2 linked regions of the Homo sapiens genome follow. The protein of the gene in region 1 interacts with the protein of each later gene in a pairwise test. Each region holds a gene or a part of one and is shown in the gene's direction. Other genes may lie near its edges. The genes, in order: ZMYND11 and ZHX1.

Region 1 (7,858 bases):
AGGTGAAATCACTTGAATGTCTCACAGTGAGTTGGAATTTGGACTCAGGTGCACTAGTGCATATTCTTCTACATCATGCTATAGAAGAGAGTCGGGGCCGGGCACGGTGGCTCGCGCCTGTAATTCCAGCACTGGGGAAGCCAAGATGGGCAGATCACTTGAGCTCAGGAGTTCGAGACCAGCGTAAGCAACATGGCGAAACCCCATCTCTACCAAAAATACAAAATTAGCTGGGCACGGTGGCATGCACCTGTGGTCCCAGCTGCTCGGGAGGCTGAGGTGGGAGGATCGCTTGAGCCCAGGAGTGGATGTTACAGTGAGCCAAGATGGTGCCACTGCACTCCAGCCTGGGTGACAGAGTGAGCCCTATCTCAAAAAAAGGAAAACAGGGACCAGGGAGACAGGGAAAAGGTTAGAATCACAATTTTGAAGGAAAGAAGGCACACACATACACAAACATCTGTTTTTCATCTTGTGTGATGAGTTGCCCTTGAAAAGACAGGATCCTACTTTTCCTTAAATGTTTTGAAGCATATTAACCTGAGTATGGGAGGACCTACTTCTAACAAATACTGTACATTCATGGACAGAAGTGGGGAACTGAATTTCAGAAGCCACAGCTATGGAGCCCTGAAGAGATGCCCGGAGCCTGGGTTTCAAGGCCCACAGGCACTGGAACTAGGCCTGGCAAGCACTGTCAGCTCAGCTCCTCGGTTGCTGTGTAGTAAAAAGCTGCCACTTAAGTATTGGAAGAATCATGGCTTTCAATGGAAATGGATTTCTTATACTGACAGTTTCTCCTGGAGAACGTCTTGCTCTGTTGTCCAGGCTGGAGTGCAGGGATGCAATCATAGCTCACTGCAGCCCTGACCTCTTGTGCTCAAGCCATCCTCCTCCCTCAGCTTCTCGAGTAGCTGCGACTACAGGAGTGAGCCACCACATCTGGCTATTTTTTTTTTTTAATTTTGTAGAGATGCGTCCTCGTTATGTTGCCCAGGCTGTTCTCGAACTCCTGGCCCCAAGTGTACCTCCCGCCTTGGCCTCCCAAAGTGTTGGGGTTATAGATGTGAGCCACTATTCCTGGCTGAAAGTTTTTTAAAATTAAAATATGGATAGTAGCAGTTTCAGTCTGAGCCACAGAGGGTGGCAGCATCAATGAATGGTAACTGCTGTTACAGAGTTCGGACCACAGCTTTCTAGTTTCAAAAACATGATTTTTAAAAGCATCCACAGGTGACTGGAAATCCTTAAGCAACATTAATAAACTTGTTATATAGTAACTTATATGCCAGAATGTTAATCTAATAGAGGAGAAGATAAGGAGAAACCACAACCATATTCAAAACATCAATATCTAATACTAAAGACTACGGAAAACTGTTATCAGAAGTCAGAAAGGCATGGAATGAAATCAAAGAACATTGTATAGTCTTAGAAAATATTTCATTGGGGCAACCCGTTCGGGTCCCCTTCCACGCTGTGGAAGCTTTGTTCTTTCGCTCTTCACAATAAATCTTGCTGCTGCTCAAAAAAAATATGTAATATAATATATATATTTTATATATATATATTTTATTGGTCTCTGAGAAAGTCTCCCTTTGCAGTACGAACTAACCTTGTGGAGTGGCTAGATCATGACTGCTCACTTCAGCATCTGTCTCTTACTGAATGTTTCTTATCCTCTTGCTTTCTTGGGGGTCTGAGGATGGGGGGCTGTAGCATGTGTAAGAGATGACACTCACTAGACACACATTTTTGAGGGCTGCCCCGCAGCAGGAAGCGGCTCTGGAGGCCATGGGCCAATGAAGGTGCTGTGACGTTTACACTCACAGCCATCTGCAGCAGTCCACACTTTATTACAGTTACAGTTAACATTTTCTTCCACAGTATTTCCTGATAATATTTAACAAAATAAATAATGAGACTAAACCCTAACTCATGTCAAATGAGTTTGAGCAATTATTACCTTACACACACTATACTGTCCCAATAGCCAGGTAATGAAATCTGATCTGGACACTCATTCTAGAAAATAGAGCAGTGCTGTCTGATTGGGGGCGGGAGGAGTATTCCCACGTCTTGGTCCTGCAGAGACAGCTCCCCGACAGCTCTGAGAAGCCCCAGGGCTCAGTGGCACCCGCTTTGAAACTCACCAATGCAAAAAGGAGAATCAAGAAGTAAAAATCTGTCTGTATTCAATTGTATAAACAGTATAGCTTTGTCATGTAAGATACTAGCACAGCAATTAGTTACTGGTCTTCTGGGCTTCCTCCAAACCTCAAACCTTTGGTCCCCAGACCCACACACACACATTCATTCAGCTGAGGGGCAAATGAGATAAATCAAACTGTTTTAATGGCCTCTTGGTATGCATTTCAAGAGAGTTGACATCAACCCAATTTTCTGCCAGCAGTGTATATAAGCGTTCATTTCGCTAACCATCAGTAGCATTATCACTGGAAAAGAATTCTGTCCTTTGAAGAAAAGCAATGTTACGTTGTTTGAATGTGTCATTACTAGTGAATTAGAATAGCTGTCAGTATTTATTAATAGTTTTATTTCTTCTATTGTACATTATCCATGGCTTTTGCGTTTTATGTGGGGAGGGATATTCGTATTCATCTTAGTGGATAAATACCACCTTACTTGGAAAATAGAGCCAAGGGTTAAATTCTAGGCAAAACCAACAGGAAAATCAGGGTAAGTTATCTAACTTACATTAGGTTGAATGAGAGATGGTATCTGCGTATAAAATTTTAAATGATCCCTACAAAGTATAACTGGGAAAAAAATGTGGAGTTATGCTGCCACTTCTTTCCTAAAAGGTAAGCTTCCTTTTATTGATACGATGTTGTCTTACTCGAGTGCCTTCTCTAAAATACACAGAACCATGCAGTCCTCTATTTTACAGATGAAGTAACAGACTGTTTAAAAAGGTGACTCACTGAAAGCTCTTCATTGTTGGAATTCCTGGCCCAACATTCAAACCAGGCATGGCTTGCTTTTCTTCTGACACGTTTTAACCCCTCTACTAAATTTTTAGCGATATATATTTACTCTTAAAATGAATTACAATTATTCTGTGATGTTCTTTGAGATAATCAAAAACTCTCTGGGATGTATCAGATTGAGGGCTGTGAATAGCATGAAAGATTGTGTTTATTTGACTAGTGTATATCACAGACCTATTCAAGTACCACCCATTTCTAAATTCTAACAGTCTTAGAAACCAGCTGTAGAAGCAGATTGATATATTTTATCAGAATCCCCAAATTCCTACAACCGTCTCTTCCTAATGACTTTTCAGGTGGGGACACGTGCCAAGACGGCCAATAGATACCTGAAACCCGGGGTAGTGCTGAACCTTACTTACACTACGTTTTCTCCTATACACACCTGCCTATAATAAAGTTTAATTTAGAAGTCAGGCACAATGAGAGATTAACAACACTAATAATAAACCAGAACAATTATAACACTATACTGTAGTAAAAGTTATGAGAATGCGGTCTCCCTGAAAACACCTTGCTGTCCTGTACTCACCGAATTTCAGAGCAGAGGACTCTGACTGACAGGTGTTCCCCGACTCCCAGTGGCGAAAGGTCCTCAGGGAAAACAGGTGAACGCTATCAAAGTATGCTTATCTCCGAACCTTTCTTAAACCAGAGTCTTAAGGGATCGTCTCTGATTAGGTCTAGAATTCCTCTCCATAGAAGATAACCTACTTCTCGCGCAAATCTGCAGTGTTCTTGCAGGGCTGCTGATGGGTGGTCCTGTTCTTTTCGCGGTCCTGTTTGCGCAGAGATGAAACGGGGAACTTAGCGTATCCCTACCGCTCTTTTTGATGACAGGAGTAAAGGGCTGTTCAGACTACCTAAACAATGTTGTTAAGAGAAGCACTCGTACTTCTCAGACTTCGCTGTTCCGGACCCCGCGAGCCAGGGGCAGGCACCGGGTCCACCCGGGGCTGAGCTGCGGCGGCGCCTGACAATGCCCCCTCGCGCCCCGGCCTCGGCGCCCGCTCCCGGCTCCAGCGCGCCTGCACGTACGTAGCCTTCACGTGTGTGTGGATACGGAGTGCATGTGTGGAGACAGAGGAATATGCTCCAACAAATTTCGGATAGAGGCGCCGAAGACAGGACGTGGGGAAGGTAGGAGCCGCGTGCACGGCTCCGGCCCCGGGCGGGAGGCGGCCGCGAGCCGGGCCGGCCGCGCGCAAGTCCGGCGCCAGCCGCTAGAGCCCCCAGTGCGCGGCCCGGCCGCGGGGCGCCTCGACCCGACACAATAAACTCCGAGGGCGGGCGGGCCGAGGGGCCGGTGGGGCCGAGCGGCCGCCCCGCGCGCATCGCCATGTGAGCGGCTGCCGCGGCTTCGCGGGGACCCAACTTTCCCGGGCGGCGGCGCCCAACTTCCCGCCGCCCGCTCCGGCCCCGCAGGCCCGCGGCGCCAGGGGAAGACGCGAGTAAGTGCGGGCGGCGGTGCCCTCCCGGCCCTCACCCCGCACGCGGCGACCCGGCCGCCTAGCCTCCCTCGCTCAGGCGCGACCGCGGCGTTCTCTGAGGTGGAGTATTACAAACATGGCGCCCCTCGAGCCCGGAGCCCTTCGCGCGGAGCCGGCGGCGGGGTCCGGGCGGGGGGGAGCCGGGGAGGAGGGAGGAGGCCGGCAGGGAGGAGGAGGAGGCGGCCTGAGCGTCCCCCCCGCCCCCCGCGCCCGTCGCCGGCTCAGGCCCGAGAGGCGCCGGGCGGCGGGAAGGAGGCGGCACCGGAGGGGAGGGCCGGGCGCGGCGGCGGCGGCGGTGGAGGAGCCGGAGCATAATGGTGGGGAAAGCTCGGCGGCGGGGCGGCGGGGCGGGCGGGGGCGTCCGTGGAGATGGCGCGGCCCGCGCGGTGGAGCCTGCCTGGCCGCGGCCTCTGGGGCGGCGGCGGCACCAGTGGGTGCTGACGGTCGCTCGCCCGCTCGCGAAGAGCTCCGAGCTGCCGGGGAGCTTTGTGGATGGCGGGGCGGGCCGGGCCGGCGGGGCCTGCGAGGGCGGCGGCGGGGCCTGCGGAGGCTGCCGGCCCGCGCCCACTCGCCTTGGGCGGCCGCGGAAGAGGCCCCGGGATGAGGCCCCGGAGGACCGCGCGGGGCCTGCTCGGGCCGGGAAGCCGCGGAGTCGCGTGAGCACCGCCCGCCGGGCCCTGTGCCCCGCTTTCGGTCAGGCCTCCTGGGCCCGTGCGCAGTCCGGGCCGGCGGGGAACGCGGCTCCGGGCGTGTGGCGGGCGGAGAGGAAGCGTTTGTCGGCGCGGCACGTCGTGTGCTAGCCCGGGAGCGGCGGGCAGGGCTGGCCCCGAGGCCCGGGGCGGAGATTCGTCGGTCCCCCGGGGCTGTGAGCGACCCCGGCAGCGAGGCCGCCGCCTCAACAGGTCCTCGCGGACCTCCGGGACAGTCCTGTGGGGTCCGCCGCCCTCCTCCCACCCAGAGCTCCGGGGAGAAGCTGCTGAGGACGCGGCTGGGACGAGGGGGGGCGCCGGGACCCGGACTTTCACTTGCAGTCTCTCCTCGCGCTTTTCTCCCGAGCCGGGAGGAGGAGGAGCTGGCGATGTGTGCGCCGTGCCCGGTGTCTTTTGCAGAGTGACCGCCGTACCTGTTTTATTCGTGTGTACCAGTGCTCGTTGTGCAGTGCGGTGTCCTATGCGGTGGGTACGCAGTACCGGGGATTATATATGGTGTGTACTCTGTGTCATATGCAGTGTGCTCGAAGTACCCGGTGTCGTACCGGCTATCATACACGGTGTGTACATGTATCTTCCTCGCTTAGGCTGTGCACTCAGCCCCCGGTATTGTGTGCAGTAGGTGCCTGGTACCCTGCTGCCATATGAGCTGTGCGTGTGGTACTCCATGTTATATACGAGTGTATGTAGTATCTGGATAGTATTGAATATATTTACCTTACCTGTTGTCACATACAGTGTGTATGTAGTACCTGGTGTCATATATGCGGTGTGTATAGTACCAGGTGTCATATACTGTGTGCACACAGTACTTGGGGTCATATATGGTGTGTACATAGTATCCTTTCACACTGTGTATGCAGCACCCAGTGTCATATACAGCCCTTACGCGGTTCCCGGTATTTTGTGCAGTATGTGCACGGTACCGTGCTGCCATATGCGGTGTGTATGCAGTATTCAATGTCATATACGTTAGGTATATAGTATCTGGTGTCATATACAGTGTATATACACTACCTGGTGTTATCTATGTTTTGTATATATATCTGGTGGCATGTACAGTATGTATACATTACATAGTGTTATATATGGTGTGTAGGTAGTACCCAATGTCATATGCCATGCATATATGGTACCCAATGTCATATGCACCATGCATGCACTATCCTTGTCACATAAGCTGTACTCAGTGTCAGATGCAGTGTGTACCTAGTACCGAGTGTCATATGTACTGTGTACACAGTACCCACTGTCATATTCAGGGTATCTAGTACCCTGGGTCATATACAGTGTGTACATGGTATCTGGTGTCAAGAATGTGAGCCTGGAGGAGATACCCAGGTGGCCCATTCAGGACCCTGCTGGTAGGAGGGAGTGGTGCAGGTTGGGTTTTTAGGGAGGTCTAGAGCCCTTGGTCCTCCTCACTTAGGTGTTCTGCATCCCACAGTAAGCTGAGTCATATGGAGGCAAGAACATTCTTAAAAATAATTTAATCTGTTTGTCCAAAAGCAGAAAGTAAATGTTTACTTGTTTTCCTGTAAACTGAGAAATATAGTAATTTTAGCTTAGTAATTATGGTGTGCACAACGTTTTCAGATTTTTGAGGTTGATTTTAATTAATGGTTGGATGTTATCAGGGAGATAGTGTTGGTTGTACTTTGAAAGTTGAAAAGTTAGAGTGCTTTCTGGTAGGCAGGGTCATCTTTGTAGTTTTTCTGAATGTCTTTTTACAAGCAGGAGAAAAAATATGAATGTCTGTAGAGGCATTTAATTTGCCTTGTCTTTGACTAACTGGCACAGGTTACATTATAGTTGTTATTTTTGGTTGACTCATCTTTATAAGATGACCAGGCTAGAGAATCAGAGATCAGAGGATATGGGATGTGATTATGACAGAATCAAAATATTTGTCTTGCTTGACTCTGTTACTTAAAGGATTTCTGTATTTCACATGGTGCTTTTCCCCCATAGAGATTGCTCATATGAAAACCAACTCTTCCTTTTACAGTCTCTAAATTGGACAATTTATTTTTGCAATTACCATTTGTGAGGTGTTTAAATAAATGTACATGTACGAGCTTCCAGCTTCACAAAAAGAAATCAATTAAAATGTTAAAATTTAGTTCTTTCATTCATACTGAATACCATTCTGTTGGCGTTTTTTTTTTTTTTTTTGAGATGGAGTCTTGCTCTGTCGCTCAGGCTGGAGTGCAGTGGTGTGATCTCGGCTTACTGCAACCCCTGCCTCCCAGGCTTAAGCGATTCTCATGCCTCAGCCTCCCGGGTAGCTCGTACTACAGGCATGTGCCACCACACCTGGATAATTTTTTGTATTTTTAGTAGGGGGCCGGGGTGGGGGTGGTTTGCCATGTTGGCCAGGTCTCAGACTCCTGGCCTCAAATGATCCACCTGCCTTGGCCTCCCAAAGTGCTGAGATTACAGATGTGAGCCACCGCACCCGGCCCTGTTGGCGTTTTGAATGGATGTCATGCATGTTTCAATGAATGACATATGTTTATTTGGACTCTCATCCTTCGGTAACCCTCTGAGTTTTTTCTTCTTAGGGTTGTTACAGTAGTGTATAATAGAGGCATTCATACTCTTTGGCATACCTTAATTGAGACACTACTTGGACCTAACTAAGAAT
Region 2 (7,277 bases), on another chromosome or scaffold:
TGATGTGATTAGATCTGCTTTATAACTTTTGGTAGCATTGTGGCAAGTGCTAAGAATAATGTTTCTGGTAGGCCAGGCACGGTGGCTCATGCCTGTAATCCCAGCACTTTTGGAGGCCAAAGCGGACAGATCACCTGAGGTCAGGAGTTCGAGTCCAGCCTGGCCAACGTGGTGAAACCCCATCTCTACTAAAACTACAAAAATTAGCCAGGCGTGGTGGCAAGCGCCTGTAATCCCAGCTACTCAGGAGGCTAAGGTAAGAGAATCATTTGAACCCAGGAGGTAGAGGTCACAGTGAGCCAAGATTGCGCCACTGCACTCCAGCCTGGGTGGCAGAGTGAGACTCTGTCTCAAAAAATAATAATAATAATAATAATGTTTCTGAAACTTTGATCATTCATCCTCCATCTTTGCTATTTTTGCCATACTTGAAGCATGCTTTTGGCTGATGAGATAGACCAGTAGGAAGAAGAGGACATAACTAATGAACTAATGGATTAAATTTCTTGTCTTTTTTTTTTTTTTGAGATGGAGTCTCACTCTGTTGCCCAGGTTGGAATGTAGTGGCATGATCTTGGCTTACAGCAATCTCTGCCTCCTGGGTTCAAGCGATTCTCCTACCTCAGCCTCTGGAGAAGCTGGGACTACAGGCACCTGCCACCACGCCTGGCTAATTTTTGTGTTTTTAGTAGAGACGGAGTTTCACCATGTTGGCCAGGCTGAATTTCTTACACACTTAATGGCCATAATATTTTAGTATCTGTGAATGCTTTTTATAGTGTTAAAGTTCCTCCTTGTTAACATTGCCATTTCACATTAATAATAGTGTGCTTGCCAAAGCAGGCCCTTTCCCCCTTGTCTTCTAATATATAGCTGGCTAAAAAATTTAAATGAATAAGCTTGTGTCTGACCCAAGGTAAAGTACTTAACATTCAATGAGTTGGCCTGGAGAGATTTATTTTGATCTTTAGAGGACATTTTTTTCTGATTCTTATCTTATTCTAGATCTTTGTAACTGAGCTATCCAGCCACTTCATATAAGTGAACTATAACTATAATTTGTTTAAAAGATCATAGTTACTCATTTTAAAACATTTTAAAATTTATTTTAATGTAGGTGATTGGAGTTGTGCTTCAAAAATTTCAGAAATTCAGCAGTATTTTATCTGCCAACAATAAGCTCTTTACTTGATTGCACCATGAGAAAGCTGCTAATGAGACTTGTTGAGCACAAAAATGGACTTGAAGAACCAAAAGCCATTGTTTTCAAATGAAGAACACTGAACAGTTTTAAGCCTCGATGCTTTTTAATCACCACTGAGCTTTTCCTCATAACATCAGAATGGCAAGCAGGCGAAAATCAACAACACCTTGCATGGTCCTTGCCAGTGAACAAGATCCAGACCTTGAGTTGATATCAGATTTGGATGAAGGTCCTCCTGTGCTTACACCTGTAGAAAACACCAGAGCAGAGAGTATCTCAAGTGATGAAGAGGTTCATGAATCTGTGGATTCAGACAATCAGCAAAATAAAAAAGTTGAAGGTGGATATGAATGTAAATATTGTACTTTTCAAACTCCAGATCTAAATATGTTTACTTTTCATGTGGATTCGGAACATCCCAATGTAGTGCTAAATTCATCCTATGTTTGTGTCGAATGCAATTTTCTTACCAAAAGGTATGATGCACTTTCTGAGCATAATCTGAAATATCACCCAGGAGAAGAGAATTTTAAGTTGACTATGGTGAAACGTAATAACCAGACAATCTTTGAACAAACAATAAATGATCTGACTTTTGATGGTAGTTTTGTTAAAGAGGAGAATGCAGAGCAAGCAGAATCTACAGAAGTTTCTTCTTCGGGAATATCTATCAGTAAAACTCCTATCATGAAAATGATGAAAAATAAAGTGGAAAATAAACGGATTGCAGTTCATCATAACTCAGTTGAGGACGTTCCTGAAGAGAAAGAGAATGAAATCAAACCAGACCGTGAAGAAATTGTAGAAAATCCAAGTTCTTCAGCTTCTGAATCTAATACAAGTACTTCCATTGTAAACAGAATACATCCAAGTACTGCCAGCACGGTAGTGACACCAGCAGCAGTTCTTCCTGGATTGGCACAGGTGATAACTGCTGTATCTGCTCAGCAGAATTCTAATTTGATTCCCAAAGTCTTAATCCCTGTTAATAGCATTCCCACCTACAATGCTGCATTGGATAACAATCCCCTTTTACTTAACACCTACAACAAGTTCCCTTACCCAACAATGTCAGAAATTACAGTTCTTTCTGCTCAAGCAAAATATACAGAGGAACAGATCAAGATATGGTTTTCAGCCCAACGTTTAAAACATGGTGTTAGTTGGACTCCCGAGGAAGTAGAGGAGGCAAGAAGGAAACAATTCAATGGAACAGTGCATACTGTACCTCAGACCATAACTGTTATTCCTACACACATTTCCACAGGGAGTAATGGTTTACCATCTATTTTACAGACATGCCAAATAGTTGGTCAGCCTGGTCTGGTCCTTACTCAAGTGGCTGGAACAAACACCTTGCCAGTTACAGCACCTATAGCCTTGACAGTGGCAGGCGTTCCAAGTCAAAATAATATACAGAAAAGTCAGGTACCTGCTGCTCAGCCTACTGCAGAAACAAAGCCAGCAACAGCAGCAGTTCCAACTTCTCAAAGTGTCAAACATGAAACTGCATTGGTAAACCCTGATTCATTTGGCATTCGGGCAAAAAAGACAAAAGAGCAACTGGCAGAATTAAAAGTTAGCTACCTTAAAAATCAGTTTCCCCATGATTCAGAAATTATCAGACTTATGAAAATAACAGGCCTGACGAAAGGAGAGATTAAAAAATGGTTTAGTGACACAAGGTACAACCAGAGAAATTCAAAGAGTAATCAGTGCTTACATCTCAACAATGATTCCTCTACCACCATTATTATAGACTCCAGTGATGAAACCACGGAATCCCCAACTGTTGGTACTGCACAGCCTAAGCAATCCTGGAATCCTTTTCCTGACTTTACTCCCCAAAAGTTTAAAGAGAAAACTGCAGAGCAGCTTCGTGTCCTTCAGGCAAGTTTTCTCAACAGCTCTGTACTTACAGATGAAGAATTAAATAGGTTAAGGGCACAAACCAAACTTACCAGAAGAGAAATCGATGCTTGGTTTACAGAGAAGAAGAAATCAAAAGCTTTAAAGGAAGAGAAAATGGAAATAGATGAAAGTAATGCAGGTAGTTCCAAAGAAGAAGCTGGAGAAACTTCTCCTGCAGATGAATCTGGTGCACCTAAGTCAGGGAGTACAGGCAAGATATGTAAAAAAACACCTGAGCAGCTGCACATGCTTAAGAGTGCATTTGTCCGGACACAGTGGCCATCACCAGAAGAGTATGACAAGTTGGCCAAAGAAAGCGGGCTTGCTAGAACAGACATAGTTAGTTGGTTTGGGGACACCCGTTATGCTTGGAAGAATGGAAACTTGAAATGGTACTACTACTATCAGAGCGCCAATTCAAGTAGTATGAATGGTCTGTCTTCCCTTAGGAAAAGAGGGAGAGGGAGACCCAAAGGACGGGGAAGAGGAAGACCGCGTGGGCGGCCTAGAGGAAGCAAAAGAATTAACAACTGGGACAGGGGACCATCACTCATAAAATTTAAAACTGGAACTGCAATACTTAAGGATTATTACCTGAAGCACAAGTTTCTTAATGAGCAAGACCTTGATGAACTTGTTAACAAATCACATATGGGCTATGAGCAGGTCAGAGAGTGGTTTGCAGAAAGACAGAGAAGATCAGAATTAGGTATAGAATTATTTGAGGAAAATGAGGAGGAAGATGAAGTTATTGATGACCAGGAAGAGGATGAAGAAGAAACAGATGATAGTGACACTTGGGAACCTCCACGACATGTGAAACGGAAGCTGTCTAAATCAGATGACTGAAATGTAAGTTAAGAAAATTTTTAATCTGCGTATATGTTCATCAACCACATACATTTTGAACAGTCACCTTGTTGTATCAGTCATCTTCATTTTTGATATTTTCTGAAGTAGTTTTTCTTTTCCCTAATAAGACTAGGTACCACTAGTATAGCTAAGAGATAAATGATTATCATGTGTAGTTTTATTATTATTATGTAGAGTTTAATGTCTTAATTATTATTTTTCATATGAATTGGGTTTTTTTTACTTTGTTTTGAAGGAAAGTTACCCAATCTCTATGAAGGGAGACTGGCAGGCAGGTTGAGGGGATTCACAAACAAATACTAAAGATAACTAAAATGTATTTTATTGCAATGCCCCCTTCACTAAAGCTTCATTTTTTGCCTATTTAAGGAAATAATTCAAAAATGAAAACTAAAAAGAAGGGGAAAAGTACACCAAAGGAAAGACTTACCACAGGGTTGAGGATTGTGCAGTTTTAGGAAACTAGGTGAAAATGGGTATCTTTTCATCTTCATTGCATTGCTCCCAAAACTTTACTAGACTTTTAACTAGAGTTTAAAATGCTTTATGTATTTATGAAATTACTCAGTATCTTTTTAGTAATTTATAAAATTACTCAATATCTTTTTCTGTTAAAAGTCAAAGGTCTGTTTTAGGCCATATATAAATTCATGTTTGCTTAGGCGGCATCTGTCTTTGAAAACTGTGATATAAATTATTTCTGTTTTAGAGATCAAAAGGCAAATAACAGATTTGATATAAACCCAATTGCTTAAAATATCTTTTCATTCTTTGGTATAAAACAAACCTGCTACCAGCACTAACATTGTATTTGATTTAAAGTATATCTCTGTAGTCTTAAAAATGCAAATAAATATGGCTTAAATTTGAAAGGTTTTGGCATGTTCCTTAAATCTTAGTTCTTTTATAAATTGGATTAATTAAAGTTGAACTGTAGTTGCAAATCAGATACCTGCTTTGGAGTTAGGAATTGAATTCTTAATACTTCTGGAATTTAATAACATAGTTTTATTCTTTGCTATTCTTTGTTTTGGAGTGTTCCGGGGTAAAAGTACACTGTTTTGAAAACAATGCAGTTGTCATGAAATGTTTGTGTATGTCTGTCAGTAGTCCAAATAGCATCTTGCTATCAGAAATGACTGCTGTGTTCAAACAGTAAGGAAGGAAATGAGACGTAGACCCTCATTATTATTTTATACGTGAGCATGCTTACTTATTTCCTTGGCTTTTTGCATGAGTATCCCATCCCCTACTTTTATGCTCTGTTATTCTGTGCAGTTTTTCCTTAATTCCCTTACATCTTCTCTCTGGTTTTATTTATTTTAACAATTATTTATAGAGAGCTTAATATGTACCAGGCACTATTCTTACTGCTTGGCAATCCTTTTTCAGGTTTTCTCCTTGTTAATATTTTTTAAGGGATAACAGATGAAACTAAAAATGTACCTGTTTTAATAAGCAGTATAAATATCATTCCAGGTTATAGGGTATAATGTAATCATTTTAGGTTATAAGAAGTTAAACAGTTTCATACAGCTTTATCCTGAAGTGCAGCCCTCCATTTCCTAATGTCAGAAATCTTCAGAGCAGGCTTTCTTCTGACCCAGATACATAAAATATTTTTAACAGGCATTTTTTTTATTGCTAAACACAAGAATGTGCACTCAGCCAAGATTAAATCAACAAATTTGTTGCTGCAGTGAATGTTGTTGTTGTAACCTCTGCAATGATTTTTTTGGGGAGTTGCAGTCTTCCAAAAATAATGTGAATTTTTCTGTACAGTTTAGTTTGACCTTTAATTTTGTATAGATAATTCTTATGTTATATATTAACACTGTAATGGATACTAATTCTGGTCAGAAAATTCATCCTAAAACTACAGTTTTCAAAAGACTGTATGATGTATGCTATACATGCACTGTATTAGTCCATTTTCACACTGCTATAAAGAACGACCTGAGACTGGGTAATTTATGAAGAAAAGAGGTTTAGTTGACTCACAGTTTTGCCGGCTTAACAAGAAGCATGACTGGGAGGCCCCAAGAAACTTACAGTCATGGCAGAAGGCGAAGGGGAAGAAGGGGAAGCAAGCACATCTCACCATGACCGAACAGGAGAGAGAGCGAAAGGGGATGTTCCACACAACTTTCAAACAACCAGATCTCCTGAGAACTCACTCACTATCATGAGAACAGCCAGAGGGGAAGTCCACCCCCATGATTCAGTCACCTCCCACCAGGCTCCCTCCCCCGACACTCCCTGATTAAAAGTTATGTATGGGCTTATACAATTTCAAATGTAAAAACAGCCTATTTACATATGTTGAAACAATAAGATTTTGTGGTATCACTGTCCCTTAATAATTACAATTCAAGGTAAGATTTGGATGGGGACACAGAGCCAAACCATATTATATACTTTTGTGATAGCATAGAAGCATGCCTTTTTAAATACACAAAAGTCTAAATTTCTGAAACATCAAGTTATCCTTGGCTGAGTAAAATAATTTTTCACTTATAAGAGGATTCACCATAGCCTTCTCTAAATAGTTATTTCTTCATTTAAATATTGTTCAATTTACCAAAAAAGTTACCAAAACCTTCCCAAAATAGTTATTACAGGAAGTGAGGTACATATATATCTTTTGCACCTTGTATAGAAATAGAAAAAAGTACAAGTCTTTAGATTTCATAGTCTGCTTATTACAGATACTGACAATGAAATATATACTCCCTGCTCATACAGTTTGAAATAAATTATTACATAAAGATGATAAATGTTTATAAGCAAATCTAGCATATGAAGAACATATACATAGATGAGTTGCACACAAAGCCTAGTGTATTATGGAAGACATATGTGGCAGGTAATCTCAAGAGAATACAAAAGATGTATTTTCACTTTTATTTCTAAAAGTAGTAAAAATTAAAATATGGTTTTCTTTAAATTTTCAGTTTTTTATGATGTTTTTCTTTTTTAGCTGCCTAAAACGTTGAAGGAGAATCAATTCTTCAACTCAAGATGTCTGATTTACTGTGAATTTGCCCAATCTTTGATGACATTGAAAACGTTTTGGGGCATACACACTCAAAAAGCAGGATCCAATACCCAAAAGAAATGGAACTTAATGTTGTGCCAAAGTTAAACTACTGCAGTTGGTGGAAGTTCTGCAATGTAAATAGAACACTAATTAAAAAACAACTTGTAAAAATGCAATTTAAATTTTAATACAGTACATTTTTCTTCTAATATGATGGAGACATTCTGAATCTTAGACTTTCTGAGGGGG

Evidence for each region.
Region 2: the proteins of ZMYND11 (region 1) and ZHX1 interact in a two-hybrid assay, tested with the Homo sapiens proteins (2 studies listed by BioGRID and IntAct).

Annotation. Positions count from the first base shown.
Region 1 is NC_000010.11:130,742-138,599, forward strand, and holds the start of ZMYND11 (zinc finger MYND domain-containing protein 11), read left to right. Parts: upstream 1-4,713; 5' UTR 4,714-4,818; intron 4,819-4,856; exon of another isoform or gene 4,857-4,931; intron 4,932-5,067; exon of another isoform or gene 5,068-5,676; intron 5,677-7,858. UniProt on the Homo sapiens protein: Chromatin reader that specifically recognizes and binds histone H3.3 trimethylated at 'Lys-36' (H3.3K36me3) and regulates RNA polymerase II elongation. Does not bind other histone H3 subtypes (H3.1 or H3.2).
Region 2 is NC_000008.11:123,250,012-123,257,288, reverse strand, and holds part of ZHX1 (zinc fingers and homeoboxes protein 1), read left to right. Parts: intron 1-1,117; 5' UTR 1,118-1,342; coding exon 1,343-3,964; 3' UTR 3,965-3,967; intron 3,968-6,968; 3' UTR 6,969-7,277. UniProt on the Homo sapiens protein: Acts as a transcriptional repressor. Increases DNMT3B-mediated repressive transcriptional activity when DNMT3B is tethered to DNA. May link molecule between DNMT3B and other co-repressor proteins.